Linked DNA regions of Homo sapiens: region 1 is linked to region 2. The links come from fine-mapping of genetic effects on gene expression. A gene starts in region 2. The other region holds a variant in brackets. All regions are shown on one strand. Distances are from middle to middle. Region 1 overlaps PSMA3 (proteasome 20S subunit alpha 3). Region 2 holds the start of PSMA3-AS1 (PSMA3 antisense RNA 1).

The links. PIP is the estimated chance that this variant, and not a neighbour inherited with it, causes the effect.
Region 1: its variant is fine-mapped to the expression of PSMA3-AS1 in whole blood (TOPMed, PIP above 0.99). The same link has a PIP of 0.9 or more in sigmoid colon, tibial nerve, unexposed skin and visceral fat.

What each region holds. Positions count from the first base shown.
Region 1 is chr14:58,265,218-58,268,130 of GRCh38, reverse strand. It overlaps PSMA3 (proteasome 20S subunit alpha 3), which reads right to left. Exons shown (of 11, transcript NM_002788.4): 8 at 611-657. It overlaps PSMA3-AS1 (PSMA3 antisense RNA 1), which reads left to right. Exons shown (of 4, transcript NR_029435.1): 4 at 738-2,766. Among named protein-coding and RNA genes, the nearest start is that of LINC00216, 21 kb to the left of the region's middle. The variant A/C (reference allele first, on the strand shown) is at 1,503.
Region 2 is chr14:58,296,585-58,299,497 of GRCh38, reverse strand. PSMA3-AS1 (PSMA3 antisense RNA 1) reads left to right here and starts at 1,361. Exons shown (of 4, transcript NR_029435.1): 1 at 1,361-1,543. ARID4A (AT-rich interaction domain 4A) reads right to left here and starts at 943. Exons shown (of 24, transcript NM_002892.4): 1 at 798-943. RefSeq lists a silencer at 1-373 and enhancers at 1,004-1,093, 1,204-1,253, 1,274-1,693, 990-1,713.

The DNA of each region.
Region 1 (2,913 bases), 31 kb after region 2:
TTGACTTTTTTATTGTTTACTGTCCAAATACCTGTTACATATTAATAGTATTCTACTTTATATACCTGTAATAAACTATTCAGGGTTTCTTAAGCTGGTTGTTGAAATGTTTTGTAATACTGCTCTTCTTACCTTGTTATAGGAACTTTTATAATAAACCTGAAAAAGTGAAACATATCTTTCCCAAATAAATAGCAGATTATATAAATGAGCCAGCTTCATGGATCATGTATTGAAATAATTAGTTGTAACCTATAAAGTTTGTAAGCATTCTTACAATAGAGGCAATCTTAAGATTACTATTATTAGGACTTAAGAGATTTGAGAAGTTGGGAGCTAACAAATTAAGACCCTAATGGTATATGTCCTTAACCTGTAACAGGAGTTTATTTTGTCAAGCTATTTTTCCCATCCTATTCATTACTACTAAAAAATATTGCTTAAAAACATTTTCTTCCTTCGTGAGGCTTCTTAGAATGTTAAATTTACCTTCTAAAAATTATACACTAAGTTATTTTACAGGAAAACAGCTTCTTAGGATTAATGTAATATATATATGCAAAGGTCAAATGAAATATTTTTGTGGATGGTAAGAAAAATTTCAACTTACATTTTTGCAACTTCTTTAACGATATCACGGCAGGTCATTTCTTTCATCTATAGAAAATAAAATGTATACTGTTCATCAGAAGAACATTTTCCACTTGTGTAATAACTATTTTCACTTTTATACTCAGATATAAAACCAAGGAAAATAACCTAAAGTCTGAAAAAGACCAGAATCGAAGTTTCCTGATTCATATTTTAATGTTTTGAAATTTATACTCCAGGCTGGGTGCAGTGGCTTGTGCCTGTAATCCCAGCACTTTGGGAGGCCGAGGCGGCCGGATTGCCTGAAGTCAGAAGTTCGAGACCAGCCTGACCAACATGGTGAAACCCTGTCTCTACTTAAAAATACAAAAGAGCTGGGCATGGAGGTGGTGCGCGCCTGTAACCCTAGCTACTCGGGAGGCTGAGGCCTAAGAATCTCTTGAACCCAGGAGGCAGAGGTTGTAGTGAGCCGGGATCACGCCACTGCACTCTAGCCTGGGCGACAGAGAGAGAGACTGTCTAAAAAAGGAAAAGAAAAAAATTTATACGCCAAAAAAGATATTCTGAGATAACCTGTAGTTACCACTAACTTTGTGACAAAATTATAAAAATCCACAGCCATCTATGAATCTGTAGGCAGACCTGAAGTTTGAACGACTGGTGAAGACATCTGATTTTCTTTATAGCCAAGTTAGGATAACAAAATGCAAACAAGTCATTAATATTTACTATATGCAAGATACAGAAAGATGAAGGAAGGAGTAAGAAGTTATCCTTCGTGGAACTATTCAAAGCAAAAATGCAAAATACCAGGGAAAGCTTTGAAGAACCAAGATTTGAGCAGGTTCTTAGAATATAGATTGGATTGGATTTGATTTCAAGAAAGATGAACGTGTAAAGCAGAAGTGGGA[A/C]GCCAAAAACTTTTTTCCAAATTAGAATTAAGCATTCTTTCAATGAACATTTGGAAATCAAGGTAGAAAAATATCCCTAGGGCCTAGCTGAGGAGTCTGTATGTTGTTGGGTTTTGATAGTAACCAGTCCAAGATTTTGTTATTAGACGTGGGTTTCTGAATAGACAGGCATTTCTGAACAGACATGACAGGATCAAAACAATGTTTGAGCAAACTGCCCTTCATCTACTGTGGATATGTTGGGGGATGATGGAATATAGTGAAAGATAATGGGTGCTCATACAGCAGTCTAGACTTAAGGTGATTCAACTACTATATATTAAACTAGATTATCTTTTATTTTTTAATTTTGAAATCTGGATGCTCAAGCTCTGCCTGCACAACCACATGAGGAAGAAGGAACAATGACAACAAAAATAACACTAAATTTAAATTTAAGAGTACTACTTTTAGGAAATAGACAAACCATTATTTGGGTACAACTAAAGGCAACTGGCATGGACTCAAATATTTTGGGGAAGAAAAAGACTAAAAGTTCTAAGGAAGAAAATGCGAACCTTGATAGTTTGAAATAGTTAAAAAGACAGTGTAGAAACTGCTTAGGCAGTTTGATTATGGACTATTAGATGATACTTGGGTCTGATAATGGTATAAGGAGAATAAAGTATTTAGGGATCCAATATTACGCCTGCAGCTTTTTCCAAATAGTTCATGGGGGAGGGGGATGTGTAAGTGGTTAACTGAAGTCTAACTAGATAGGTTTGTTGTAAGCTTAGGATGTTTACAGTTCTTCATGTTAAGTTGAGCGTGATGGGAAGGGAAAGAATGCTGATCTTTAAATTTTTGTCCTTAGTTAAGTTCTGTATTTAGTGAATTAATTGCATCCTAAAAAGTCAAACTTGAAAAGCACATTTTAAATGGCAAATCTATTTTTTACATGTTTGTGAAGTTTTTATTTTTTAGTAAACAGACCATCAGAAGAGAACAATGGTACAGAGCAGGGGTCAGCAGATGGATTTTGTAAAGCATCAACTTGTAAATATTTTCAAGTTTATTAGCTGTATGGCTCTGGTTTCTGTTCCCTGTTCCAAATGTTAAAGTCTACTGTTGTATTCTAAAAGCAGCCATGGACTGAATGTAGCTGTGTTCCAATAAAACTTACACAAAAGCAGGCAGTGGGCCATAATTTGCAACACCTGATTCACAGCATAATTTTGTCACAAACTGAAAGTGTTCCTCAATTAAAGTGATTTTTTTTTCTTGATTTTTCTCTGGGATTTATTGTTTTTCCCATTCCTTGCTAGGATTTAACTACAGAAAGACAGATAGTAACTGCTCTAAATATTCTAATTTCCTTTATTTTTTTGAGATAAGGTGTCGCTCTGTTGCCCTGGCTGGAGTGCAGTGGCGT
Region 2 (2,913 bases):
GCCAGAGCTCCCTTCGGGCTTCCCCAGGTCCCCCGCGGAGACGACCGCCGAGCCTCCGCTCCGCGGTCCCCCGGATACCCCGACTTCGGCCCGCGCCCCGCCTCCGCCGCTCGGCCCCCTCGGCCCGCCCCGGGCCCGCGGTGGCGGCAGCGGAGTGTCACGGCGCCATTGCTCTCCTTCCTTCGCTCTGCACCATGTCAGAAAGGAGAAGCGCTCCTTCACCCAAAGGGGCAGGGGCCGCGGCCTTCAGCCGGGAGCCGCCAGAGCCCCGGGGGACCCGCGTGGGGGAGGGGGCGGGGGGCGGAGGGGAGGAGGAGGGGAGGTGGCCCGGACAGGGTGTGGGAGGGGAGGGGAGCCGCACCGCAGCAGCCGCTGCCTCCTCCCAGCGCCCGCCTCAACTTTTTGTACAGCCCAGAGAGGTATCAGCTCGTAGCCCCTCGAGTCCTGCCACGGACTCCGCAGAGGTGGACGCGCCGCGGAGTTGGGGGACGGCTCCCCCAAGCAGCCCGCTCTTCACCGCGCGGAAGCAAACTTAGCGGCGCGGCCAGCCCCACAGCCATTTTCCCGGGAACCCGAGGAAGCGGACGAGGAGGCGGCTGCAACTGCGGCGGCGGTTCCTGCAGTTGCTGCCGCTGGTCAATGGCTGGCCCCTTCCCTTGCGCTCGCCGTGCCACTTGCCTAGCATCCCTCTCCCCACCTCCAAAGCTTCCAACTGCACCGGGACCTCGGGCAGCAGCAGCTGCTGCTACTGCCACTTCGTCCATTCAGTATCCCCGGATTCCCCTCTCCCCACCTACCAACTGCGGGTGAAGTGCGCGCTGTCAGCTCCAGAGTCCTCCTCCCCTCTGACCTCCGTGGGCCCCCGTCCGGGCAGCACCACTCCCAGCCGCGGCTGCAGTTCCTGCGCCGGGTTCCCCACTCGCCCCGATTTACTGCCACAATCCACCAAATAACAAGCTGTTGAGCAGACTCGCTTCTACACGAACTCCTATTGGCTGCTCATGACGCCGAAGAGCTTCGGATAGGACCTCGCTACCTGCCGTCCTCATTGGATGTAGCTGTGAAACTTCATGGATTGGTGAGAAAAACAGCAGGTAGGACATCTTCCACTTATGATTGGCTTTTTCCGAAAACCAACTTTATTGGAGAGTTGGTTATTGAGTAAGCAAGTCCTGAGAAATGATTGGTAGAGACGACTCCGGATGTGCTTGACTGGGCACTGATTGGTGAATTGAGGGGTCAGGAAGAGCAGTTCGACACGAGGATTGGCGGCGGAGTGTCCCATGGAAACGGAACCCAGAATTGCAGCCAGGGGCTTGCACGGGGGCGGGGCAGGGTCTGTCCAAGGCGCTTGCGCTAAACCAGCTTGTCGGCGCCATTTTGTCTCGGCAGCGGTGGCCGTAGCTCCATCGCATTTTATGTTTCTGGCGAGAAGGGAACGGAGTTTTCATCAGGTAGATTGGTTTTTGTGCGGCCGTCCTCCACCGTTTCCTCCAGGACAGCACCTAGTCGTGGCCGGAGGAGTCTCAGAGCTGTCAGAAAGGTCAGTTGGAGGCTATGGTTGTCCGATTGACTGGGGGGATGGCGCAGCCCTAGCGGCACCGGCACCGGAAGTGAAGGGGCCGCAGGCAGCCATGGTAAACTTCTCCCTGCGGCGGGGTGGGGAGAAGGGGCGGGATGAATGGGGGCGAGGCTTCCTCTCCCGCCGAGATAAAGAGGTGGAGGAGAGGCAAACGTCTTTCTTGGAGGTTCTCTTTCGGGTTTTCGAGAATGTGAGAGATTTTCTGGGTTCTGTCCCACTGCAATCTTTCCTGTCTTTGGAAGTGCATTTCGGGGACTTGCCATGTTCTCCACCTGATTGGCACCAGCTGTGGGAGCCTTCTTAGTTAAGACAGGGAAGAAGTGGTTCTTAGAAACATCCTGCATGGGTAGAGGTTTCCGCGTGCTCCTCACGGGATAAAGCTATGAGGAAACTGGAGAAAGCGCTGGCTTTCTGGATGCTGAGGAATTTACTTGCCAGCGCAGACGCTTCTTCTGTGACCTTAGACAAGGGTCTGTCACTCTGCACGAGGCTTATGCTACTTTTTGAAAGCAAACAGTGGTTTTGCAGGGACTGAAAACATCTTAGACAAAAGGACGTCCCCGATAAGATAGACGTTGATCTTTTTCTGTTAACATCTTATATTCTGTTAAACGAAACACACATTTTTAAATAGCGGAATTGGAGTATAAAATTGACTAGTTTTATAGAATGGAGTAATTTTTAAAATGTGACATATCGTCAGTAATCCACGTGGACTAAATTTTCTCAGTAAGAAAACAGCCGAGCAGAATCAGTTTTTTATTCGTAACAGTAATTTTGCTCAAAAGTATTCATAAAAACGTGAAATGCATGTTGGCATTTCTAGTGAGTGACCTAGTCACACTGGATAGATCCTAATAGTTACCCTCAATACCTCTGTTTTAAACCCTACTGCTATATTGGTGGCGCCCATAACTAGAAAATGATTGTGTGACTTAACAATTACTGGGTTTTTTGGCAGTTGTGCTGAAGAAAACAGAACATCTCAGTGATTACTGAGGTGAGTCATAAAGTCTAAAAATCCTTAGAATTGCGGGGGACTACCTGGAAAAACTTTCTATGGATTAGTAAAGAAATACCAGAATGGGAGGAAGGGTAGTTAAAAGATGTTTTGTTTGGTCAGATTCAAATGAGTCTGTATAATTAGCTTTCTAGTGTAATATTTTAGAATGAAATCCCAAAATTAGGACATCCTTATGGACTTGTTTACCCATTTACGTGGTTCTCATTTCTGGACTTTGATATACCTCATGTTTTTGTTATAAAACATTATGCGTATTTTTGTGATTTCCTCCCCCCCACCCGCCTATTTAAAAAGTTCTTATATAGAA